Linked DNA regions of Homo sapiens. The protein of the gene in region 4 interacts with the protein of the main gene of each other region in a pairwise test. Each region holds a gene or a part of one and is shown on either strand. Other genes may lie near its edges.

What was found.
Region 1: the proteins of ORMDL1 (region 4) and CREB3L1 interact in binary tests that used the Homo sapiens proteins (3 or more experiments, as listed by UniProt).
Region 2: the proteins of ORMDL1 (region 4) and EBP interact in binary tests that used the Homo sapiens proteins (3 or more experiments, as listed by UniProt).
Region 3: the proteins of ORMDL1 (region 4) and REEP4 interact in binary tests that used the Homo sapiens proteins (3 or more experiments, as listed by UniProt).

The regions. Positions count from the first base shown.
Region 1 is NC_000011.10:46,273,238-46,280,681, reverse strand, and holds the start of CREB3L1 (cyclic AMP-responsive element-binding protein 3-like protein 1), read right to left. Parts: upstream 3,021-7,444; 5' UTR 2,571-3,020; coding exon 2,469-2,570; intron 1-2,468.
Region 2 is NC_000023.11:48,524,808-48,529,248, reverse strand, and holds the end of EBP (3-beta-hydroxysteroid-Delta(8),Delta(7)-isomerase), read right to left. Parts: intron 2,261-4,441; coding exon 2,224-2,260; intron 2,095-2,223; coding exon 1,964-2,094; intron 1,016-1,963; coding exon 792-1,015; 3' UTR 533-791; downstream 1-532. UniProt on the Homo sapiens protein: Isomerase that catalyzes the conversion of Delta(8)-sterols to their corresponding Delta(7)-isomers a catalytic step in the postlanosterol biosynthesis of cholesterol.
Region 3 is NC_000008.11:22,138,908-22,146,093, forward strand, and holds the start of REEP4 (receptor expression-enhancing protein 4), read right to left. Parts: upstream 3,001-7,186; 5' UTR 2,576-3,000; coding exon 2,544-2,575; intron 1,791-2,543; coding exon 1,718-1,790; intron 1,342-1,717; coding exon 1,265-1,341; intron 1,177-1,264; coding exon 1,056-1,176; intron 623-1,055; coding exon 509-622; intron 155-508; coding exon 19-154; intron 1-18. UniProt on the Homo sapiens protein: Microtubule-binding protein required to ensure proper cell division and nuclear envelope reassembly by sequestering the endoplasmic reticulum away from chromosomes during mitosis.
Region 4 is NC_000002.12:189,774,340-189,781,371, forward strand, and holds part of ORMDL1 (ORM1-like protein 1), read right to left. Parts: intron 1,378-7,032; coding exon 1,226-1,377; intron 1-1,225. UniProt on the Homo sapiens protein: Plays an essential role in the homeostatic regulation of sphingolipid de novo biosynthesis by modulating the activity of the serine palmitoyltransferase (SPT) in response to ceramide levels.

The DNA.
Region 1 (7,444 bases), on a different chromosome or scaffold from region 4:
CTGAGCAATTCTCACTATCACGCCCATCCAGTCTCTATGGATCAAGCCAACGATGAACGTTACATGCCAGGCATTGTGCTACATAACCTTCACTTTAATTTTCTCTCGAAATGCTTACAGTAATGCTATAGTTCTAATATTCCCATTTTTCAGATGAGGAAGTCAAAGCCCAGAAGAAGAAAAGTCACTTTTGGCCGGGCGCAGTGGCTCAAGCCTGTAATCCCAGCACTTTGGGAGGCCGAGGTGGGTGGATCACGAGGTCAGGAGATCAAGACCATCCTGGCTAACACGGTGAAACCCCGTCTCTACTAAAAATATAAAAAAAAATTAGCCGGGCGTGGTGGCGGGTGCCTGTAGTCCCAGCTACTCGGGACGCTGAGACAGGAGAATGGCGTGAACCCGGGAGGCGGAGCTTGCAGTGAGCCGAGATCGCGCCACTGCACTCCAGCCTGGGCGACAGAGCAAGACTCCGTCTGAAAAAAAACAAAAAACAAAAAACAAAAAAAAAAACAAGAAAAGAAAAGTCACTTTTCTGAATTGTCCCGCTGGCTGGTGGCAGAAACAGAGACAGAATTAAATCTCCTGATTCCCAGCCCAAGAGTCCTTTCTCTCTTTCCTTAGGCACCCCATCTTCTCCCGCTGCCTCTCCTGGCGCTGCCCCAGGTGCGAGATCAGGAGCCTCCCCAGCAGGGCTTTTCCTCCCCAGTGTCCTAGTGCTGGATCCCACTGTCTGGTCGTGCCTCTTTTCCTGTGCTGGACCAAGGCCCAGATAAGCAGCTGGGGATGCAGGGCTGAATGGAGCAGCAGGAAGAGGCTTCGGGCGGCCGAGTTCATTCAGAAGAAAGCCCAACTCAGAGCTGCCAAGGGCCGAGAGAAGCTTACTGCAGGGCTCTACTGCCCTGCTTGACTTCAAGGGTCCGAGCTCTGACAAACCTCTTTCCCTCTGACTAGTGTCTTTTACCAGCTTCAAGAGGAGGTGTGGATCCCCCGATCCCTGCTGCTTTATTCCTGGGATCTGTGCCAGAACCATCTATAGGAAGACCTGATCCAACCTCTCCCCCATTTTACAGACAAAGAAACTGAGGCTCAGGGAGGAGAGCCAGTGGTAGGGGCCAAGCTCACAGGGGAAGCAGAGCCAGGACTAGAAACCAAGTCTCGCTGCAGTCAATGCAAGCCCTCTGCCCTTATACCCTTGTCTTGTCTGCTGAATTATGCTCTCTCTGCCTGGGACAGGGGCCTTCCTCAGAGCGCAGGGTGACCAGGATGTGCTGCTTAATGGAGAACAGGGAGACCTCAGCCCCCATGCCTCCTTGACTCCGGCTCCTGTCCCTTGGCCTGGTTCCTCACCATCAATCTAGTGGCCTGGGACAGTTTAGGTGGAAGTCCAAGATGCTCAAGTCCTCTAAGGACTTGACTCTTGCCTGGCCAAGTTTATCTTGGTCCTGGGAGGTAGAGGTCAGCAGGTAAAGAGTCTCAAGTGCTTGATCACAGGGTGTGTGTGTGTGTGTGGCGTGTGAACAGGCATGCACACGCAACTGGTGGTTCACTGAAGAGGGGGCTCCCACTAGACTCCCCAAACAATCCACATTTCATCTGGGCAGGCCCTTCTGAACCCAAATATTTTCTCCCATTCTAAGTCCGTGCCCCTCCCCCATCAAGGCCTTAGGGCTGAGCCTGAGAGAGGGAGGGAGGGAAGAAGAGAGAGAAGCCACGTTTCCTTAGGGAGGGAGGGGAAGAGTGAGAAAGAGGAGAAAGACAAGCTCACAGTCGGACCTAGTCAAGAAGACATAGGGAGAGGGAGAAAGTCAGCCAGACTCCAGGAACAGAGGGACAGAGCAGAGATCTAGAGGCAGATGGAGAGAAATGGCTCCCTCCTCCTGAGCCATCACCCTATGTTGCCCTGACCGCCTCTTCCCAGCCCCCAGCCTCAGGTCCCTCCCTGGGGTGGGGGGTCTCTGGGCCTGATTCCCTGGGGCTGCCAGGGTAGCACCCTGAAATTTCTGGGCCTGGCTTCCCCGAGGGGTCGGGTCTCAGGCCCTCTGAACGTTCCCCGGTGCGCCCCCCAGCGGAGATCCAGCCTATGAGCCACCGAAGCCCCAAGGGAGGCGCAGGAAAGGGCGCTGCCACTTTGCGCCCAGTCTGGTCCTGGAACCTGGGGTGGGTTGGGGACGGCTAGAAGACGTGGGTGGAGGGCGGGATTGGTGTCTCTTGAGCTCAGATCCGAGGATCGGACGGACCCGATACCTCGATGGCCCCTTCCCCCTAGAAGGTGGAGGCCAGTGTATTCAAAGATTGAGCCCCCAGGAGGGGCGCTTAGCTCCAAACACATGTCGCTCCTGGAGACCCTGCGCTGAACCCTCTCCCCGGCTCCTGCCCAGTGATGTGTAGTCGGGTCCTTCTAGGGGCCCAGGCGCGCCGCGAGGACGGGTGCCGAGGGGTGGAACGGGAACGGAGACCCTTCATCTTACCGCATTGTTGAGGAAGTCCGACTCGTTCAGATCCCCCAAGTCCAGGAAGCTGGATCCGGGGAACAGCCTGTCGGCCGGGAAGGGTTCCAAGACGGCGTCCATCGCAGCCGGCTCCCGGGACCCCCTTCCACTGGGCTTCCCTCACTCCAGGGCGGCGGCGCGCCCAGTCCAGAGCTCCTGCCTGAGCGCTGGCAAACGGGCGGGGGGCAGGTCCGGGGCGAAGCCCCGGGGGAGGGGCGGACGGAGGCGGCGCGGCCCCGGGTGGGGGGCGCGGGGCGCGCGGGGGCCTTAGGGCAGCGGCTAGGAGCGGGATGGGCTCAGGGGCCCCGGGCGCACCGTGGGCATTCAGCCGACTCCACCTCCTCCTGCTCCTCCTGGGGCACAGCTGGCTTCCATGGGGAGCCCGGGGTTGGGGCTGAGGGCTTCAGGAGCCCCCCGGACAGGGTGGGAGCCGGGGCGGGGGAGCTAAGTGCTCCCCCGAGACTGGGTGGCTGCCGGCCTCTCCTCTGTCTCTGCGTCTCCCTCCGCACGTCTTCTGTCACTTTCCTCTCTGTGAAACCGGGAACCCCTGGCTGGCTAGCCCAGCTGGCCAAGGCGCCACGCCCCCACATCAATATTCACAATAATTTAATATTAATGAGAAGAGGGCGTGGCTCGAGGAATCCTCTCTCCTTTTTTAAAGAGACATCTGCAACTTCGTCTTAGTAATCTCTCTTCTCTGAATGCTCAAGGTGGGGGCTTAAAGCAACAATAGTCCTGGAACCGATAACAGTGTTCCTGGAACATTGGCATTTTAAGGCTTCACCAACCACTGTCCCGTAAATTGATGAGGGAGCTATTTCCATCCTTCCAGCCTTATACTAAAGCCTGCACGAAACCCAGTCAGGGAATTCCATTTCACAGTCCCCTCAACAGATCTCCCCTCAACGGGGGAGATTTTCAGCTTTTTAAAAATTTTATTTATTATTATTACTATTTTTTTGACACGGAGTTTCGCTCTTTTTGCCCGGGCTGGGGTGCAATGGTGTGTTCTCGGCTCACTGCAACCTCCGCCTCCCAGTTTCAAACGATTCTCCTGCCTCAGCCTCCTGAGCACCTGGAATTACAGGCGCGCCCCACCACGCCCAGCTAATTTTTGTATTTTTAGTAGGGACGGGGTTTCACCATGTTGGCCAGGCTCCTCTGGAACTCCTAACCTCAGGTGATCCGGCCTCCTTGGCCTCCCAAAGTGCTGGGATTACAGGTGTGAGCCACCATGCCCAGCCGATTTTCAGCTTGTAACTCTCATTTCTCATCTCACCTGTTTCTTCTTCCAGGAAGCCTTCCCTGAACCCCCAGGCTGGAGCAGTTACCAACGGTATACACCCACAGGGCATCATGTGCTCACCTCCACTGTTTCCAGTCTAATGTGGTATTGTCCTTATTTGCTCACATTGTTTGTATCTGTGACCCCACTGAGCTGTGAGGCTCCTCAGGGCAAGGACAGTCCCCAGCTTCCCTCTGTGTGAAAGGGCTGGGTGAACAGCCAGAGATAGGAGAGTCCCCCTCTTCTCCTCGATAGTCAAGTCCCTCCCTACCCCCCAATGGTTCTGAAGAGCAGGAAGTTGGAAAACAGTGGTTCTGGAATCTGAATGAGCCAAGGTGCTGGCTGGCTGCACACTCCACAGTCACCAGACACTCCCAGGGCCCCGGGATCCATTACCTAAGTGGCTTGCTCCTGCGTACAAACTTAATCTCTTGAAAGGGCTGATAGCAATCGCCAAGCACCTGAACAAATGGAGGTGGTTCAGAAAGGCACTCCCTCAGAGGGCTGGGCACACTGTTTCCTGACCAGAAGTTATTAATAAGATTAAGCATGTCCTTTCTGTCTGGGACGTTTAATTAGCTCAGGAACCAAAGGCCTTTAAGAGGTAGAGATGTCATTGCAGCTAAGCCATGGATGTCACCAAAATTGCTCTCAGCACCAGGTGGGAGAAGGGTTCATACCAAGGCTGAGACAGCAGTTGTTTGCTTCCCTGGCAGGCAGGCAGTCACGTGGCTTTTCCCCACCTTATGATCTAGTTGACATAGTTCTGGAGAGTGAAGTTCTGACCTTCCAGGCTGTCACATGACTGTTAGCTCCCAGGCCTCCTGTAGAATTTGCTCCTGAGAAAGTAGGATTATAACCCATGCTCTGGGGACCAGTTCACCAGCCATGCAACTCCGAGAAGTAAGGCTGGGCCAAAAAGAAATCAATTCACTTTCACAACAGTGGCGGGTAGAATTAGGGTGCTGGGACCATGGGTGTCTTCCCCAAATGCGTCACATCTGGCCAAATGGGGACCATTCAAACACTGGGATGTGGCTGATACTTCTCAGGGGGAGGGGAGGGGTCTCTGGCTGGGTGAACAGGCTATCGTGAGTGAGCTCCAGCAGCAGGTGTCTGGAGTCCTGGCTACTAAGCTATAGTCCCTACAGGCCCCCAGGAGGAGAAAAAGTGGCCCCCCGCCTGAGGTTGGCTGGAAATTGTGCCTGTGTTCCTCCCAGCCTGCTCTGTAATTAGAGACACAGGTACCATTTAAGTGATTGGGGAAGATTATATAGTTTTAGATAAGTAGGATTAGAGTGTCCTCTCTTTCCTTATTCTTACCCAGGTGAACACCCCAGGAAACCATTGAAAATAATCCTGGGGAGCCATTCTGGTTCCAGCAGCTTCTGCGGAGTCTGAGAGGCAGAATCTCCCAAGAGAAATCCTGGGGAAAGGGGTGGCAGGGGGAGGAGGGAGACCAGGCAGTGTAGAGCCGGGCACACAGAGGAGTGTGATCATTTTCTTTCTGGAATGAAGAGGATGGCAAAGTCCAGCAGAGATGAGGATGATCGCAGATTTATTCACACATTCTACAAGCATTATTGAGTACCTACTGTGAATGGTTCCGAGACTAGGCACTGGAGACACAGCAGTGATTAAGAACCTGGATCCCAGAGTAAACGTGTTTGTACAGAGGTGGGTGGGTAAAAAAATGTTAAGAAGATGATTTCAGAGAGTGGTAAGGACTATGAAAAAATAAAATAGTGTGATGTGACTCTTTGGGTAAGGAAGGCCTCTCTGAAGAGGCCACATGTGAACTGAGAACTGAATCAAGAACTGGGGTCATTTATGGGGCAAAATGCAGGGAAAACATTCTAGGCAGAGGGAACAGCAAGTAGAAGAGAAAGAGGAGGAAGGCCGGACTGGGAAGAACAGGCAGTGGCGCAGGAGTGAGATGATGAGGGCGAAACCCCAATGCCCTACACAAACCCCGTACTTATGGCCACACTGAAGCCCAGGCTCTATTCTGTGCCAGGACTGGAAAGAACTGTGCCCACCTAAAGCCTTCTGTAGGGTGTGGTCAGTCACACATCCCTTCTCTCTTGTCTATTAAAGATTTTCCAGGAGATGAAATGAGATGTCTCCCTGGGTCTTAAGTCTGCCTTCTAACCCAGCAGGGAGGGTTTGCTCCCTCCCTCCCAGTTCTTGGGCCTGGTCCCACAACCCAACCCCCCACCAAGGCCCCTCCTTTACATCTGAAGGAGTTAGGGGATGGAGGCCAACGTTGGCTCTGCAAACACCACCTCCACAGGCCCAAATACTGCAGGTCACGAGAGGCACTGATGGCAGCTCCTTCTGTGACGGGCTCAGGAACACCTGGTTGCTGCTCTCCATGAGCTGTTCCAACTGTGAAGCAAAAGCTTCATGCATAAAGGCATCCCAACGCAGTCAATGACGCACAGGAGAAAGAGGACAGAGATAAGCTTCTTGCCTGTTCCAGACACTGAGGATCAGGCAGAGAGAGAGGCTCCTGCCAGGCTGAGCTGTGAGTAGAATGGGGTGTGTGTGTGTGTGTGTGTGTGTGTGTGTGTGTGTGTGTGTGTGTAGAGTCACTGCCCTTCGTTGGGTCTCCGTTTCCATAGCTATGAAATGGGCGAGGTGTTGATGCCCTCTAGGGTTTCATCCTCTCCAAGGATCTTCCAATGTGCCCTTTCCAGGACAGGGCCTGGGGAGCAGGGGTAGGGGTCGGGGGAGTGTGAAGGGCCTCCCCGCTCAGGAGGCCTGGTACTTTGATTATCCAGGCTTCTGCCCAGAGCCTCCAGGAGGGTGCAAGCTGGTGTTTACACTCAGCAGGCAGGCCCTGGGTGGTGATAATAAGGTCACCCAAAGTAAACTTGTCTTGTTTGCCTGGGTTGTAAAGGGAAAAATGCTTTGGCACACTCTAACAGGAACTTCTGAGAAATGAAAACATATTCATCCTGGAGATTAGACTGACTTCCGGGGTGCAGACGGGGCCCTCTGTTCTCTAGCAGCTCCCTAAATTGGGCTGCATGGCTGCTTTCCCTGTGCCCCCCACTGGGGCTGGACATGGAGCCTGAGGTGGCACTCTACCAGGAGCAGGGTGGGTTTCAGAACCCCAGCTCTCACTTAGTTTAGGGCTCTCCTTTCCACCCCTTTGGCCTGTGATCCCTTTCCACCCAACCCTGAACCATAAAAATACCGGACATTTATTAGTACTTGCTTTGTGCCAGGCACTAAATACTTTTTATCATCTTGTTTAATTCTTGGAACAAGCTTGTGAGATAAGTATCGTCTTTCACTGATTCTGAGATGCACATTTCCTCAATGTTTTAACATCTCTGAAATCAGAATGTGTCTTATGATCGATGGTCTGTCATAGTTTAATGGATGATGTTTTTTCCTTCCTGAAGTACATAAAATAGTGGTGCATCATGTAATTGATGACACCTTAGAATCAACATGATATTATTATCATCCCTAATCTGCAGATGAGAAAACCAAGGCTCAGAGAGTTTATATGACTTGCCTCTTCTCGTTTTATAGAAAACCAAGGCCTGGGGCCATCAGAGGCTTGCCTTAAGTCACCCAGCCTCATGAGGCAGATAGGACTGAAACCAGGGCCTCCCGGCTCCGCACCCAGAGCCCTTTCCACTCACCCCAGTTGAAC
Region 2 (4,441 bases), on a different chromosome or scaffold from region 4:
CAGGAGGATCGCTGGAGCCAGGGAGGTAGAGGCTGCAGTGAACCATGATCATACCACTGCACTCCAGCCTGACACAGAGCGAGGCCCTGTCTCAAAAAAAAAAAAAAAAAAAGGAAATTTGGACACACAGAGAGACACCAGGGACAGGGACGCTAGTTCATAGAGACCATGTGAGGACACTGAGAAGGTGGCCACCTGCAAGCTACGGACAGGGGCCTCAGGAGAAGTCAAACCTGCTGACACCTTGATCTTGGACTCCAGAACTGTGAGAAAATGAACTTCGGTGGTTTAAGCCTAGTCTGTGGCATTCTGTTATGGCAGCTCGAGTTAAGACCAGGGGACTGTGGGGCCAGTGATAGGGTCTGTGTAGTGAGTTATGGGGTCTGGCGGGGGGTCAGTGATAGGGGTTTGTGAGGTCAGAGGTGGGAGGTCTTTAGATGCTGATGGGGGTCTGGAATAAGTGAATGATGGTGGGATCTGTGGGGTCAGTCATAGCGCATCTCTGGGGTTAGTAATTAAGGATCTCTCAGTGTTAGAGTCAAGATCTTTTATTTCCTGATTTTAAAAATCGTCACCATCATAGACCTCCTGGCTTCTCTTGTATCTGTGTTCTAATGGCTCCCAGCAGTGCCTTCACACAGCCCCTTTATTCCCCTTCTTGTGCCTGCCCATGAGCCTGAGTGTGACAGATCAATTAGCTTTGTCCCTCCAAACTGTGGGAGCAGGACTAGACTCTTCTGGCAGGCAGAGAGCTCCTCCTCGGCCAGTGTTCGAGCCTGGTCCACCACTCCTCAGTTCTTCTTGCTCTTGGCTTTTGTGGCCTTGGCATCCAGCGTGCTCTGGGCATGAGTGAGGTGCTTCACAGCATCAAGCACAAGGACTCCAGGCAGCACCAGCCACAGGGCATTCATGAAGACAAAGTAAAACCAGAAGTAGAGAGGGTGGCCCAGCTCTCCGTGCTGGAATCCGTCGCGGTGCTCTGTCAGGAAGTAGAGCACATCCCCATAGATCTGGCCTGTGGGTGGCAGGAGGGGAAGGAGAAGCCCCAGTGAGGAAGGGGACACTTTCGCCAATTCTCTATTCCAAAGCACTTTCCAAGTCATCATTCAAGGTCTCAGAGCTAAGTATTCTGAAATCACAGAGCTGAAAATCTGAGAAATCAGAAAAGTGAGATTCCAGACACCAGAGAGCTGAGAATTTCAGAACTCAGGAGAGCTCACACCTTCAGATTTAAGGAAGTTCAAAATCCTCAAATCCAAGACAGCTTAGGATTCTGGGACTAAAGATAACTCATATCGCTAGAACTAAAGAAAGCTAACAATTTAATAACACAAGATGACTGAGGCCGGGCACAGTGGCTCACACCTGTAATCCCAGTACTTCGGGAGGCCAAGCCAGGAGGACTGTTTGAGCTCAGGAGCTTGAGACCAGCCTGGGCAACATGGCGAAACCCCATCTCTACTAAAAATACAAAAGTTAGCCAGGCACGGTGGCACATGCCTGTAGTCCCAGCTACTCAGGAGACTGAGGCAGGAAGATCGCTTGAGTCTGGGAGGTGGAGGTTGCAGTGAGCCGAGATCACACCATAGCACTCTGGCCTGGGTGACAGAGCCAGACCCTGTTTTAAAAAAAATATGACAGAATCTTACATGAAGGGATCTCAGAGCCCTGATCCTGGAGGTTCCAGGGGCTTCTTGCCACCCTGGGCCACCTCATGTAACCTTCACAGGAGACTTTGTGATGGAGAAGGAGGAGGAGGAAGAAAAATGAACCCTCCCCACCTGAGAGTGCAGGCTCAGAGAAGGGCATGACCTTTCCAGAGCCTCAGGGGGTTTGTCATTCAGTCTGACTTACCCCTGGAAGGGCACCGTTGAGAGATCCCACCCACAGGGATACATCTGTGTCTGTGGATCCCCCATCAACCCCTCTAGTGCCCAGTGCCCCTCTAGTGCCCTTTCCTTACCCACAGAGACCACAAGCTGTAGAATGAAGCGGAGGGGATGCTGGCGGAGAAAGGCGATCACCACCCACAGGCTGAGTGGTCCCCACAGGCAAGCTGTGATGGTTTCCATGCACACTGTGAAGTTGTCACCCCTGCAGGAGAAAGCATGAGGGGACACTGGTATCGGTGTGCTCTTCCTACAGGTTAGCCCATTAGTGCTCCCCAACTCACCACCCCCCGAAAACCAATGCCAGTCTCCATTGACAGAGGCAAACACTTACAGGATGTATCGGCTGTCTCCCTTGGCATACTCTTTCCCTGAAGAAAAGAAGAGAGAGATATGAAGAATAAAGGCAGTGAAAGGAACACACACTTGTGAGAGCTGGGGGTCCCTGCAAGAAGACAGACTTCATAACCTTCCCATGCGTCTGCTTCCTCATCCGTGAAATGGGGTAACTGTTTGGATTCTAGTGGTTTATTTCTCTAAAACAAGGTAATATGTGTAAAGCCTGACACAAAACAGTGTGGCTGTGATTGGTACTCAAGAAGTGTGTGTGGTATAAAAGGAAGCAGGTGTAGATGATGGAGTGAGTGAAGTAGCCAATGAGAGAGAGAGAATGTAGGTGAACAGATGAGTGAATACAAGAGTGAGCAGAGAATCAGAAAGAAAAAGACCGCCGGGCACGATGGCTCATGCCTGTAATCCCAACACTTTGGGAGGCTGAGGTGGGATGATGGCTTGCATAAAGGAGTTCAAGACCAGTCTGAACAATATAGTGAGACCCCCAACTCTATAAAACATACAAAAATTAGCTGGACGTGGTGGCACGTGCCTACAGTCCCAGGCTGCAGTGGGAGGATGTCTTGAGCCCAGGAGGTTGAGGCTGCAGTGAGCTATGATAGCACCACAGTGCTCAGCCTGGACAACAGGGTAAGACCCTGTCTCAAAAAAAAAAAAAAAAAAGAAAGAAAGAAAAAGATCATCCAATATAAAATAGGCAGAAGACTTGAATAGGTTCTTCACAAAGAGGATTTCTAAATGGCCAATAAGTATATGAAAGATGTTCAAACTTCCATTAGTCACTAAGGAAAAGCAAATTAAAACCATAATGAGATATCACTCACATCTACTGGAATGACTAAAATTTAAGAAACATCTGACCAGCCGGGCACAATGGCTCATGCCTGTAATGTTTTTTTTTTTTTTTTTTTTTTTTGAGACGGAGCCTTGCTCTTATCGCTCAGGCTGGAGTGTGCAGTGGCGCAATCTCAGCTCACCACAACCTCCGCCTCCCAGGTCCCAGAGATTCTCCTGCCTCAGCCTCCTGAGTAGCTGGGATTACAGGCACCTGCCACCACGCCCAGCTAATTTTTAGACTTTTAGTAGAGACGGGGTTTCACTATGTTGGCCAGACTGGTCTCAAACTCCTGACCTCAGGTGATCTGCCCGCCTTCGCCTCACAAAGTGCTGGGATTACAGGCATGAGCCACTCTGCCCGGCCTTGTTTATAATGGCAGAAGATTGAGGGAAAATGCCCATCAATACTACACAAGTCAAGCAACTGTACAATGTCCATGCTTTGAAAGCTCTTTATGAAATCATGAGGAGTGACCTCATTAAAAAAAGCAGCTGGGTGCGGTGGCTCATGCTTGTAATCCTAGCACTTTGGGAGGCTGAGGTGGGCAGATCACTTGAAGCCAGGAGTTGGAGAACAGCCTGGGCAACAAAGCAAGACGCCATCTCTTAAAAAAAAAAGTTGTTAAAAAAAAAATAACTTGGTGGGGTGGCACATGCCTATAATCCCAGCTACTAGGGAGGCTGAGGCAGGAGGATTGCTTGATTGCCCAGGAGTTCAAGGTTGCAGTGAGCTATAATCATGCCACTGCACTCTAGCCTGGGTGACAGAGCGAGACCCCGTCTCAAAAAAGAAAATGGCTTCTTTGGTTTTCTTGTAAGGAAAGAAAGAAAAAGAGAAAAGATTAGAAGTATATATAGCATATTACCATTTGTGTAAAAAGGGAAAAGTGCAAATAATGATAATAATAGTGAACAGTTACATGGCAACCACTGTTTGCCAAACACTGTTCTAAGTATCTTACATATAGTTGGTTATTACTATTATCCTCCTTTTACAATTGAGCAAATTGAGACTTACGTGTGTAAATAAACTGAAAAGAAACATAAACAACTATCAACAGTGCCTAACAGCGTTTGGGGAAACTTAGTGGATAGAAAGCAGATTTTCACTGCAAATCTCTTTAAATGGTTTTTTGACCCACGTGAATATACATGCAACAAAAAAGTTAAATAAGGCTGGGCACGGTGGTGCGCACCTGTCATCCCAGAATTTTGGGAGGCTGAGGTGGAAGGATTGCTTGAGCCCAGGAGTTAAAGAACAGCCTGAGCAACATAGCAAGACCTTGTCTCTACAAAAAAGTGAAAATATTAGCCAGGCATAAAGGTGTGCACCTATAGTATAGTCCCAGCTACTGGGGAGG
Region 3 (7,186 bases), on a different chromosome or scaffold from region 4:
GCCCCTCTGCCCGCTCACCAATGGGTGGCCTCCGGTGGGACACCTGGTCCTCCAGGTAGAGGGGGTCATGGTAGGCAGGGGCAGGTGCGTCAGAGATGGAGCGCAGGTCCTGCATGGAGAAGCTCCGCAGCCTGCCGGCCAGCGCCCCCTGACTCTGCGAGGGGGAAGAGGCTTCAGCGGGGAGGCTGCCCAGGGATATTGGCCAACCAGCTAATCACCGGAGCTGAGACGCAGAAGTGAAAACTGCTCAGCAAGCTTCTGGCCCCGCGCCAATGTGGCACCAACAGGAAACCAAAGTCAGAGAGCAGGAGCCGCTGCTTACGCTCAGTGCCAGAGCCAGGAAGGAAGGTCTGACTCCAGCTCCACGCTTCTGCCAATACCCCCCCGTCACCTTCTCACCCCTGCTCCCCGGCTGCCATCTCTGGGCTCCCTGGCAGAGGAGCTGAATGAGCCCAAAGGGCCTTAGGGGTGGGATGGGGGCTGCTGGAGGGCTGGGGGCCCAGAGCACCTTGGTGGCAGCCTGCACAGCAGCGGAGGCGGCAATGTTGAGGCCCCGCTTCCCGAAGCTGAGCACGGTCTCGTAGCTGCGCTCCTTGGCCTGCACGATGTACGCGTCGATCTCCTGTGGACCCAATGGGGAGGAGAGCTCAGGTGGACAGCCAGAGTCCCTCTTCCTCTGCAGATTCTGAGAAGCCACTGGTTGTGGCGCCACCCAGCCCAGCCCAGCCCCACCTGGTGCCCAGAGCCACAAATCCGGGCCACAAACACAGACCAAGAGCAGGGCTGCCACCCGCTCACACCTCCATGAGTGGCCATGCTCCAGCTGCCGCCACCACTACCCCCAAACCAATTTCCATCCTCAAAGGTCATTCATGTGTACCCCCACCTGATTATCCCAGAAGATGAGGTAGGCTGGGCCCTGTCAAGGTCCTGCCCCTCAATAGCAGCAGGACTGGGATAGAACCCCGGTGTCCCCAGCATCCTAAATCCCAGGTCCAGGGCTCTTTCCCTCATACCCACCCCTAAGCCTCCCTTCCCGCTTCCCCCTGGGGTACCTTCTCATGGCGGGACAGGGACGGGTGGACAAACTTGCGGTAAAGCAGGCTGGCGCCCTTGGTGTAGGGTGAGAGCAGCCACAGCACGAAGGCCATCTTGATCTCATAGTAGAAAGGGAACCTGTCACAGCACAAGGGGCAGGGTGAGCCAAGGAGCAGGGCTGGGGGGGCCACCCCTGACCCATGGCTTGCGGACCCTGCGTCCATACCAGGAGATAAAAATGTCTGTAACGATCTCTGCTGCCATGAAGAGTGCAAAAACAATCCAGTACATCATCCACCGCACCTGTGGGGTGAGCGCCCAGAGGTCAGCATGGGGCCTGCAGCACCAACTCCCAACCCAGGCCAGCCCAGCCCAGAGATTCCAGGGAGCCTGTCCGGCTGCATAGCTGCTTTCCCCCACACATGGCTGGACAGGAGCTCTGAGAAACTGCTGCTCATTCCTATGCCCGCCTCCAACAAGCTTCACCCACCAGATCTTCCACAGGCACCCCGATGGCCTGCCCTCTATCTACACCCTCTTGAACAGGGCCCATTCTCTCTCCCTCCCCACTCCACTCAGGATGTGCCACACAGCCTTGCCCCTGGAGGAGGGAGAGGCCAACTGAGACCCTCCCCACCTCACCAAGTCCTATTAAACACACCCAAACCCCCACGCTCACATATTCACGAATGTTCTTGGTCTTCACAGCCTTATAGGAAGCATAAGCTGGACACAGCATCCCAAACACCAGCCTGGAAGAGCAGCCATGGGGAGTGTGAGGGGCACCATGCCCCACTCCCACCTTGCCAAGTGGCCATTTCCCCCCACTGGGGTGCAAGGTGGCAGTACCCGCCCTGTTTTTCTCGCTTGGCTTGTACAACCCGTGCCTGAGTCAGAGCCCTGGAGGCCACCTCCCCACCCTGCTGTTTACAAACATCCCAAGCCTGCCCAGGCCTGCACCGGTGGCCCATGGGTGCATGATGGAGTGAGAGGACAGCCACTCCACGAAGTGGGTGAGAACACCAGACTGTCCCCTCCCATGGGCATGCAATCAGGCCCAGGGTCACCAGACCTGACACTGCTGGGTTGCAGATAGGGCTATGTGAGCCAGATGTTGGCATACTCAAAGGTGAGGAATAGGATGGTGAGTCATGTGACTGCTCAGATGGCAAGCAGGCACCTGGATTCTCCGCCCACAACGTGCCATATCACCTTGTGTTTGCCAAGGGGCAGCAAGGTAGGCCTGTGGCCCTCGGCTCCACGCATCTGTTTGCAGTGTGTGTGGCGTGCGGCAGGGGTCGTTCTCAGCCAACGAGGCTTGGTGGGGCGGGTAGCCTGCGGTGCCCCAGACACCGCGTGCAAGCCCACAGGTCCGTTAACCCTTGCATGGAGTGCTGGAGGGTGGAGCTCAGAAAGTTCCTCCTCCCACTAGACGTCCACAGCTTCCACCACAGGGGCGGGACGGCACCCCGGGGTAGAGGAGGTCTGAGGGCGGCCATACTCACACCACCAGGCGACAGATCATCCAGGACACCATCTTGCCGGCCTTTGGGACGTGGGGAGGACCCCAGGAAGCCGCTCAGAAGGACGTTCACTCAAGGGCTGGGACGGGGGGTGATCAGGGCAGTTGCGGGAAGCAGAGGGGCGATCCGGCTGTCCCTCGGCGGAGGCAGAGCCCGCCGCCCACGGCCTCCGACTGTGCAGTTCAGGGGACCTGGAGAATGGGGAGACCCGAGGCAAAGCGGCCCCGGCGGGGAGGAAGCCGACTTGGGAGCGGGCGCGCCCCGCGGCCGGGGCAGTTACAGCTCCCACCCGCCCTTTCTGCCGCGGAGAACCTGGCGCTCGGCCCTTGCTGCTGGTCCCGCGCTGGAGCGGGTCGCCGCGGTTCCAGCGCGCCGGGCCACCAGCACCGGCCTACAGGGCGGAGTTCGCAACTCACTTGAAAGTTGCACGGAACCGAGTGCTGCCCAACCCCAGGGCTCCGGCTTGCCACGCAGGCGCAGTGTAGCCCCGGAGGGGGCGGGGCGAGGTCAGGGAGGCGAGAGGCCGGCCCCTTAAAGGGGCGATGTGCCGCGGGACTCGCGCGTGGGGCCCACAGTGGAGCCACCTTCCCAATCGGAAAGATTAGCGTGTGGGAAGCTGTAACAAAAAAGCAGGGGGAGTGCGGGGGTCGGCACACAAAGAAAATCTGGACTCCAGAGTTTAAGCGACCCTTCACTGGCTTTTCCCGGTGTCTTTCCCTCTCGCCTCATTTTCCCCTCTGTGAACCGGGTAAAGGCATGAGATGCGGTTGGTGGGGTAGAGGGAAGGATCTCCTCTGCAGGCTCAGTCAGGAGCTGGAAGGAAGCTTGGCTGAGCGCCAGCAAGTCCGGGTCTCACACCAGTGGGTCCAGGAGGGAAAGGGGGGAGGTGTGGGGGGAGAGGGAACCTGAGGGACTTTTTGCCCCACCAGGTTTCAGGGGTTCCCTTCTCTCTGGGATGCCTTTCCAGATCCCTGACTCCGGGGCAGGCTGACCGCGATGATTTGAGGCATTCTGGGTAGAGCTCTCAGCTCCCACACTCCTTCAGCAGAAGTTTGAAATTCCACCTATTCCTCTGAGCCAAGTACACAAATAACCCTGGGCCCTTAATAGTAGTATCAACCATTGCCATTTTGTAATGCACGTTTGCACGCAAGGTCTTAGTCTTTGCAAACTTCTTTTAACCATGTAGGAAATAGGATGCTCAGTGGTGAAAAGTAACTTTCCTGGTATCACCCAGTGGTATTTATTGCTGGCTGGTGGCTACATGCTTGGCTTGATCAGTCTTCTGAGAGATCAGCAGCTGCAGGCTGAGTGGCCCTGCAGAGGGCCATGGAACCGGATAAGTTCCTCTGGGAGGGAGGCAGATGCCAGGAAGAAGGGGGAAGGCTCTAAAAAAGAAGGCAAACGTTGCTGCTTCTACTACTTGCCCTGTGAGGTTTCATTCTTTTTGACATCTTCAGCTTACTGCCTCTGTTGTTCCCTCTGAAAATAGTGTCCCCCCACCTTGCAGAGGGTGGGAGCAAAGCTGTCCGGGCATGTGGGGTGGAAACACAGGCAGTTACTGCTTTTTATTGGAGCCACAGTTAACCCCCACCAGCTATCATAAGGATGGAATAGGTAATCATGGGGCCAGGGAAAGGAGGCTTCTGGGGGATAAATAAACACACGGTGATTATATGGTCTTAATTACTGTCATCAGTTTTATTGGTATTGCTGGGTGTGAGAGCCAGCAGTGAAACCAGCCCACAGGAGAAACTTCCCCGAGGCCCCATGTCTCCCTCTCCTCTCTTAACCAACCCTCACATTTACCTGTCCCCCCTTACACACACACATTGGAGTAACCAAAAAGGCCAAGGGCTAGAGGAACTCCTAAGGAAGGCCCCAGCCACTGTCCATCTTTAGGCACAGACATGGTTCTCTAGGTGAAAAGTGTCCTGGGTCTCCCTGAAGGAGGAAAGCTGTGACTGAATAGGGGAGCAGCTGAAAGGGACATCCATGACTCAGGAGGTCACTGCACACGTGAGCCTCGGGTCCTTTGGTGCGTGCTGCAGAACTGTCCCTTCCCTGCTGGCTGCCTTCTGGGGCCACGCACCTGACCTCAGCATCACAGGCCTCTGTCTACCCCCATTTGCTGGGAAACATTACCTGGGCCCGCCCAAAGCTCATTCAGCTGGGATGGTCTCCCGTATGGAGACTCCTGGTCCCAATGCCTGTGCTTGGGAAATCTCAGAGAAGAGATGTCAGAGGTCTGCGCTGACAGCAAGGCTCAGCACGGAGGGCAAGAGGCTGGCAGCTGAGGAGTGTCACCATCCCTGGTCTTGGCAGAGTGAGTAGACCTTGCCTCTTGCAGCCTTTGGTCCTGAGCTGTTGACACAGTCACCCAATTCCACTGGGTTGCTAAGCAGCACTCTGGACGTGGACAAGCCCCAGGGCAAGTGACCCAGCAGGCACACACAGAAAGCCAGGCACTCGGGCCAAGGGAGGAAAGTGCCTCCCACCCCTCAGAAGAGCTCCCCCCTGGGGGCAGCAGCTGTCAAAGTGATATTTATCTTTCTACTGGGCAGCAGAGTGCCAGCGTGTCTGGGAGACTCAACCCACTTTCCCTGGCAACCTCTCCCAAGCACAGGATAAGGGCCCGTTTCCCATTTGGAAAAGAAGGACAGGCCTCCCCAGAATGATGGAGGTGCCTGCTAAGCTAAGAGCATATTTGAGGAGGTGAAAAGCAGGTAAGTCACCTATTGCTGGGGGTGAGGAGGCCAGGTCAGAGGCTGCAGGTAAGATATGGGGCACAGGGGCTCCAAGACTGAGGATGGGTGAGGAACCATCACCCACAGACAGTTCTCTCCAAAGATCCACCTCCTCCTCTTGCACAAAACACCCCTCTCTGAGCCACTTCTGTTTTCATATATTCCCATAGACCAAGGCAAATCATAATCATGTGCTGGACACACTATACAAATGGACTTACATATACTAATGCATTTCACTCTCATGAGAAATAATCCTGTCAGGGTAGGATGCGGTGGCTCATGCCTGTAGTAATCCCAACACTTTGGGAGGCCGAGGACGGCAGATCATTGAGGTCAGGAGTTCGAGACCAGTCTGGTGAACATGGTGAAACCCATCTCTACTAAAAATATGAAAATTAGTCAGGGGTGGGGGCGTGCTCCTGTAGTCCCAGCTACTTGGAAGGCTGAGGCAGGAGAATTAATTGAACCTAGGAGGCTGAGGTTGCAGTGACTCAAGATCGCACTACTGCACTCCAGCCTAAGCTGGAAAAAACAAACAACAAACCCTGTCAGGTAGGTATCACGATTATACTCATTTTATAAATAAGAAAAACCGAGGCACAAATAGGCTAAGTAACGTGGCTGAATGTTACTAGCTGGTTTCACCCGGCTGGCAGAATCAGGAACCCATGAAGTGGGGTTTTTAAATCTGCTTCACAGAAGGAGAAATTGAAGCTCAGGGAAATCAGCTGACTTGCTTGAAATCTCACACCATGGAAAGGGACTGAGCCAGAATTCACACCCATGTTATCCAGGCTCCAGACCCCACTCCTCTGTGCACAGCTGCTCACAGGTGCTCGCTGAAGAGAGAGAAACGAAGGGTTTTTGTGATATGCGAGAGCTGAGAGGGGCTCTGGAGGACAAATGAAAACCTGGAGACTCAGAGAAGGGATTTGACCTGCCCAGGGTCACACAGCAAGCACCACTGCCCAAGGATCTATCATTTCCCCCGTTTCCATCCCCTGTCCCTTACACTGTCACCAACCCACACAAGGCCACAAAAGGATTTCATTTACTCAAGCCCATGGGGGAAGAGGAGAAAAGGGGTCCCCACAGCTTGACAACACCTGTTTTGCCATTCAGTGTGCTGTCCCCGAGACCCCATTACTTGCACTGACACCCTGAGCACTGTCCCCCACCCGGCCCCCATCTGACTGTCTTAGACTCTCTCGACTCCACTCACAGAGATGTTGAGGGACCCTGACTGCCCACAGGGCTTGGGTGTGTACGGTGGGACCAGGTCACAGGAACCTTCATGGTGGGCAGAGGCTCATGGGTTTGTTGAGCAGGAAGCCAAGGCAGGTTCCTGAGCAGGGGAGGACAGGAGGAAAGTGTGTGTTAGAAAGATCAGACCGATGGCTGAGCGTGGTGGCTCACGTCTGTAATCCCAGCACTTTGGGAGGCCGAGACAGGCGGATCACCTGAGGTTGGGACTTTGAGACTAGCCTGGCCAACATGGTGAAACCCCGTCTCTCCTAAAAATACAAAAATTAACCAGGCGTGGTGGTGGGCACCTGTAGTCCCAGCTACTCAAGAGGCTGAGGCAGGATAATCACTTGAACCTGGGAGGCGGAGATTGTAGTGAGCCAAGACAGGGCCACCTCACTCCAGCCTGGGCTACAAGAGAGAAACTCCATCTTTAAAAAAAAAAAAAAAAAAAGCCAGGCTCAGTGGCTCACGCCTATAATCCCAGCACTTTGGAAGGCTGAGGCCAGCAGATCACCTGAGGTCGGGAGTTCAAGATCAGCCTGACCAACATGGAGAAACCCCGTCTCTATTAAAAATACAAAATTAGCCAGGTGTGGTGGTGCATGACTGTAATCCCAGCTACTCAGG
Region 4 (7,032 bases):
ATTATATGGGACTAAATCAATTCAAAATTTCCTCAAAGGGCTATAAATTAAGGAAAAAGAACCCCATTATTTTATGATCAGTTTATTCCTTTCACTTTAAAAATGCCTTCCCTTACTTAAATATCTAAAACCTAGTCTCTCTTAAGTTCTAACATAAGGATTTCCAACACCTCCAAGAAGTCTTTTGTGCTATGCCAGGCTGCACTGACTCTATCATGGACATTATTATGTATAGGCTAGATGGTACAGAGTATTAAGATATATGAGCAATACCTCTATTATGTGTAGGCCACTGTACTTACTGTGGGATTCAAAGCAATCCATGCACTTATAAATTCTTTGGAGAGACAAAATAAAACATATATACATTTTTTTATTTGTCAATTATACCTCAGTAAAGCTGGGGAAAAAAGGAGGAGGCATTTCAGGTAGGAGATATGATTTGAACTGATTTGAACAAAGACAGAAATAGGACTACACATGAAATATTCAAGAAATGCTGCTTAGAAGGCCAGGTAGGAGTTGGGTGGGGATAAAATATTTACATCAAGGGAAAAGGAGGTAAGAACTATTTTCTGGAAGGCCCAGAACATCAGATAGGAGAAAGAAATTAGATACCAGATACAGGTTACATGCTATCCAGGTAGATTATTATCTCATTTATTTCTTACAGCATTAGGATTGAATTAGGTATCACTAGCTAGAATTTTATATATGAGCAAACCAAGCTGGCTGAGTGATATATATAGGACTCCACCCAGGTCTATCCTATAATGAAAGCCTGACCTACTTTTTTCGAAACCATACTCTTTCCCAAGGAGTCTGAATATCTTAATAGGATAGGTGGCCAGTGAAATTCTTCTCATTATCTAAATCATTGCTTAAGGAGATTAATCTGACAGTGCAATATAGAATATGATTATGTATTTTGTGTCCTTATATGAAACCTAAGGACGGGAGCTGGAATACATTTGACCTGTATATCCTAAATGTCTAGGTGCACTGATTAGCATGTAATATTGTCTCCGTATATGTACTGACTGAAGTGAAAATTAGTTTATTATCAACTTGTTAAAAATTTTGTCTATATTTTATGTTCTATCCGAGGTGCTACTTATTGATAGAAGTTTGCAACAAAATATGTTTCTAATTCCAATTCAATCTGATGAAAAGATATCTTCCTCTTATCCAATCCTCCTCATACCTAAAAATTTCTGCCACTTACAGAATTATTGGAGAAATTGTGAAAAACTTCCGTGAAGATGTAAACTGTACTCCATAGTCCAGTTGTTCCCAATGAGTTAGGAGCCTTGCTTTACCCTGGTCAGGAGTTTCGAAAGGTGTTCCTTTCACTGCATGCAAAAATACGTACATCCCCTGGAAAACAAGCAAGGGGTTATAAATGATCAATATTAAATACAAAATTAGTCTTTGTCAGTAGCATTAACGAGGTTCCAAGCTGTTTGTGAGAGTGTGTGATTTAACTGAGTTCGTTTTAAGCTTTCATATAATAGTGAAAGGCTGTAGCCAGTTTCTTTATAATAAAATAGAACTTTCTGGGGTATAAAAATATTAAGTGAGAATTGGTAAAAGGTCAACTGAAAGTAACCTGTTTGCATTTCTATTCGTTAAACTAAAAATAATTATCAGGGTAGCTTCATATCTTTACATTCAGATTTTCTTACACTTTTCCTATTAGGAAATAGGATTACTTTTTCCCCAATGTACAGGAGGTTTTTCTTCAGGGTATATTAGTAAATTTGATGATACTTAAAAAATGATAAAGACATACAAAGTGGTAGAAAACAATAAAATGATTAAAATCTATTGGGAAAAATAGTTTTGAGATATTTAATATGATGACTGCCTTTGCCTTAATAGTTCTCTTCCAAAGCAATAAAAATAGTTTGATATAATAGGTATAATGTTCCACTCAATTCCCTTTTTAAATCGCTATTGTGCCTCAATAGCATTTCTTCTGAAGTCAGTTTTAAAAACTCAAAGCAAATAACATTACTAAAAGCCATTCTGTCAGATCATATGTCTAAACATATAATTTTTTTTATCAATAGGGTAGAAAAAAACCAATCTATAGATTTGGTTTCCTTGAGATTATGATACCCATTTAGACTCATAGGCAGTGTTTCATTCAGGATCACTGCTTGAGGCACTTTATGTAAAGGGATAATGCCTAAATATTATCATGACACAAAGTTTTTCCTTCTAGACGCCACAATGTGATGTCATTTTTCCTACCTCTACTTTTAATGATTATATAGAAAAATTAGGGATTTGAAATTTTATATGATACCAACTTAACCAAGCCCTTCCTTTCAAGGCTTAGTCTACTTCCTAGTTATTCCAGTAGGCAATTCAGAAGTCGTTTAGCTACAATAACACGTAAGCTATGGAGGAAAGGACTCATGTTCAATTGGATTTAACCCATCAAACATTTAATAGGTGGCTTATATGTACAAGACATAGGACATATATGCACATATGAAATTGAATGAGATGTACCCAAGCCTTGGAAAAATTCAATCCTCCAAGAGATGATAAGGAAAAAAAATGCATAAACAGCTAGAAAGTAGGGCAGAAATTGCTATCAAAGGTACAATCAGAATACTCAGCAAATGGCAGGGGAGGGAAAGGTTCCTTGTTGCTGTGCCAAAAGTCTTGATGCTACTTCATTACCTCATTCTTAAAGGTTCAGCTCAAATAACAATTCCTTAGAAAAACCTACCTCATTAGTAATAATTAATCTCCTCTTTATGTAGTTGTATACAATTTTATTGAAAATACGATTACAGTACAATATATCATGTTAGAGTTGTTTGCATGATGTTTGTTTTCCCATTAGCCTGAATACACTCGGAATAAGCACTGGGACACCGCAAGACATTAGACATTGGACACTTCCAACATTAGAAATGTTGGAAGATGACATTACGCCAAGGAGTATTTATTCTGTAAGCTCTACGAAACCATTTTCATATGGACTTTAAAGTGAATTATAAAACAGAAAGTATATGTTTTCAAATCATCGGGGGTATAGGACCCCCAAAAAGTTAAGAACATCTATTCCAGACCACATAGATATTAGAATATAAGAGAATAATCATCCTCTCATTATTTCCTTCAAACCATATGTACTTAACTAGTGTTTAGAATATCAAAACAGTTTATTTTATACATCTTTTCAGTGAAAAATAATAAAATCTTATCTGGCCATATATCTACTGCCCCAATATTTTTTAAATTGTTTTTATGTAAAAATGTTTGTGATTATTATTCCTCCATTAAAAGAATTAGAGAACAAAAGTATGTAGCTCATGCTTAGTCCTTACTAAATACCTACTGAATCAAAATGAATCATTCATTTTTAAAGCTGGGCCAAGAATCCTGTGAAGCATTAATACCTCTAAGGGTGAGGTAGCACTTAATAAAGCAACCACTGTAGGTTTCTACTGTACGGTTCAGAAAGGCAAATATACTGTATTTTTCTAACCGGGTGTAACAATTAGGTCCATTTTCTCATTTTTAAAGGCATTCAATATGTACTTCAGATTTTTAATTGGTTTAATGTGGCTATATTCAAAGGAAACTTAAATTTGGAGTCATGTAATTGCAACTCCGATGGCTAATTAAGTTTTTAGTGTGGTGAACTAATAACAAATAAATCAGAAGTTTGCTTTTCTATACAATGTCAATTACCAATCATTTGTCCATGGTCAACCAACTTGAAACACGGTTAGGGGGTGGTGGTGGTACAGGGATGGCATCTAAACCGTGGTGGCTCACACTCAGCACTTTGGGAGGCCGAGGCGGGCAGATCACCTGAGGTTGGGAGTTCGAGACCAGCCTGACCAACATGGTGAAACCCTGTCTGTACTAAAAATACAAAAATTAGCCAGGCATGGTGGTGCACACCTGTAATCCCAGCGACTCAGGAGGCTGAGGCAGGAGAATCGCTTGAACCCAGGAGGGGGAGGTTGCAGTGAGCCAAGATCGTGCCACTGTACTCCAGCCTGGGTGACAGAGTGAAACTCCGTCTCAAAAAAAAAGGACTAACTTATTCGGCAAACATTTAAATACGTTCTTAGCGATACAAAAATTAAAACATAAAGAGATAAACTGCTAATTATAAAACAATGACAAACACATGATAAAAGAATGCAGCATGGGAGTTGTGTAGATTCCTGGAGGGACAGTTTTGCTGTAGGAAATCAGGCAGAGCAGGAAGGAGGGAGAGGTATTAAAATAGTAGAGACTGGGCCGGGCATGGTAGCTCACACCTGTAATCCCAGCATTTTGGAAGGCCAAGGCAGGTGGATCACCTGAGGTCAGGAGTTCAAGTCCAGCCCGGCCAACATGTTGAAACCCCATCTGTACTAAAAATACAAAAATTAGCCAGGTGTAGTGGCACATGCCTGTAGTCCCATCTGTTCAGGACGCTGAGGCAGGAGAATTGCTTGAACCTGGGAGGTGCAGGTTGCAGTGAGCCAAGATTGCGCCACTGCACTCCAGCCTGGATGACACAGAGAGACTCCATCTCAAAAAAAATAAAAGTAGACCCTGAGTACTATGGCTCACTCATGCTTTGGGAGGCTGAGACAGGAGGATCACTTGAGGTCAGGAGTTTGAGACTAGACTGGGTAACACAGCAAGACCCCCATCTCAATCAGTCAATCAGCTGAGCATGGTGGCACACACCTATAGTCCTAGCTACTTGGAAGGCTGAGGCAGGAAGATCACTTGAGACCAGGAGTTCGAGGCTGCAGTGAGCTATGATCATGCCACTGCACTCCAGCCTGGGTAACAGAGTGAGACCCTGTCTCTGTAAGAAAAACAAAATGGCTGGGCATGCTGGCTCATGCCTGTAATCCCAGCACTTTTGGAGGATGGTGCAGAAGGACTGCTTGAGGCCAGGAGTTCAAGACCAGCCTGGGCAACATAGTGAGAGCCTATCACTATTAAAATAAAAACAAATTAGCCGGGTGTGGTGGCATGTGCCTGCAGTCCTCAAATTTATTGGGAAGCTAAGGTGGGAGGAGCTATGATCACGCCAGTCTCTTAAAAACAAAAGAGTACTTGGTCCAGGTGAAAAGAAAATATAGTAGAAAAGCTTAAGCCAAAACAATAAAATGAGAGCAAGATGATTTTCTTTATTGCTAGTGTATAGCCTCTATTTAGAGATGGTTGAGACAAGGTGAAGTCTCCTTGTTTCTGCACTGTTATCAACTGGTCTTATATGTCACACAAGAAACTTGGATTTTACCATGACTGCAATGGATGATCACTGAATGACTTAGAGTATGACTTGAGCAAACATGCATTTTTAAAACATCACTCTGCCAAGCTGGAATGGAGAAGGGTAGAGAAGCATCAAGAAGACTATTTGATTTATCTGAGTAATTTACTTGAGGAAAAAATGAGGGTATGGGGATCAAGTTGAGAGTAAAGCAGTAGAAGACAGTGCTCTGAGCAAATGGATATGGAATATAAAGGAAAAGAAGTTATCCTAAGACTTAGGTGACCTTGTATTCTTGTTTGCATACGATGGTTCTGATTATACCTAATCTCTTGTAGTAGTTATTACCAAAGCTCCATTTTACTCTCTAAACAGCCTGTTTGGACTATACATTACAGGTTGAGTATTCCTTATCCACAATGCTTTGGAGCAGAAGTGTTTCAGATTTTGGATTGTTTTGGATTTTGGAATATCGGCATATACATAATGAGATATCTTGGGGACAGGGCCCAAGTCTAAACATGAAATTCATTTATGTTTCATATACATCATACACACACAGCCTAAAGATAATTTTATATAGTATCTTTAATAATTTTGTGCATGAAATAAAGTTTTGATTGCATTTTAATTGCAACCTGTCAGGAAGTCAGGTATGGAATTTTCCGCTTGTGGCACAACACTGGTGCTAAAAAAGTTTCTAATTTTAGAACATTTTCTATTTTGGGTTTCTGATTAGGGATGCTCAACCTGTATATTAATTGCTTTACCATTAACATTCAGCTGTCTGGCTTGGCCTTTAGATAAGATTAGTAGTGAAGCCAGAGGATCAGATTGTGGGTGGTAAGGGAGTAATCAGGAATAAGATAAGTTCCATTTATACTTGTTTGGTTTAAGGTGCAAAGTAATCTGGTGATAAAAATAAATAGGAGCATCCTTATTCTACAGGTAGAAACTGAAAATATGGGTAGATGAAGTAACCTAGGTAGAATACATAGCATAAGAAGAGATGAAGAAAAGAACCTTGGGAATAGAAATATTTAAGAGAGGAAAAGAGAAGGAAGACCCCATAAGAAGAAAGAGAAGGTCAGAAATATATGCCGGTGAAAGTGATCCTATAGAAGCCAAAGGAAGTTTCAACAAAAGTGAGATGATTAGTGTAAAATATTTCAGAGAAGTCACTATTTAAAAGAAAACATCGTTTGCTCTTACAAAGTCTATCACATAAAATGGACTAAATGGACACATATTTATCATGTCTACCAGCACATCATTCTTATCCTCCTCCAGTCAACTTCAAATATACTCCAGAAGATAGAAAATAAATATTATTGTTATTATTTGAGGCAGGGTCTCACTGTCACCCAGGCTGGAGTGCAGTGGCACGATCTTGGCTCACTGCAACCTCCACCTCCCAGGCTCAAGCGATTCTCCTACCTCAGCCTCCCGAATAGCTGGGACTATAGATGTGCTGCCACCATGCCAGGCTAAGGTTTTGTATTTTTTGTAGAGACAGAATTTCAGGCTTCACCATGTTGCCCAGGCTGGTCTTGAAATCCTGAGCTCAAGTGATCTGTCCACCTCAGCCTCCCAAAGCACTGGGATTACAGGCATGAGCCACCGTGACTGGCCAAAATAAATATTAATTTTTAAAAATCAATTTCTCCTGTTTTCCTGTCTTAATGCTTTAAGTTCATTTTAAAAAATATCTTTCAACAAATGTACTGCTAAACTGGATTCAATTAAAATCCTCAACTAACTGTATTTCCTCCTTTTCACGT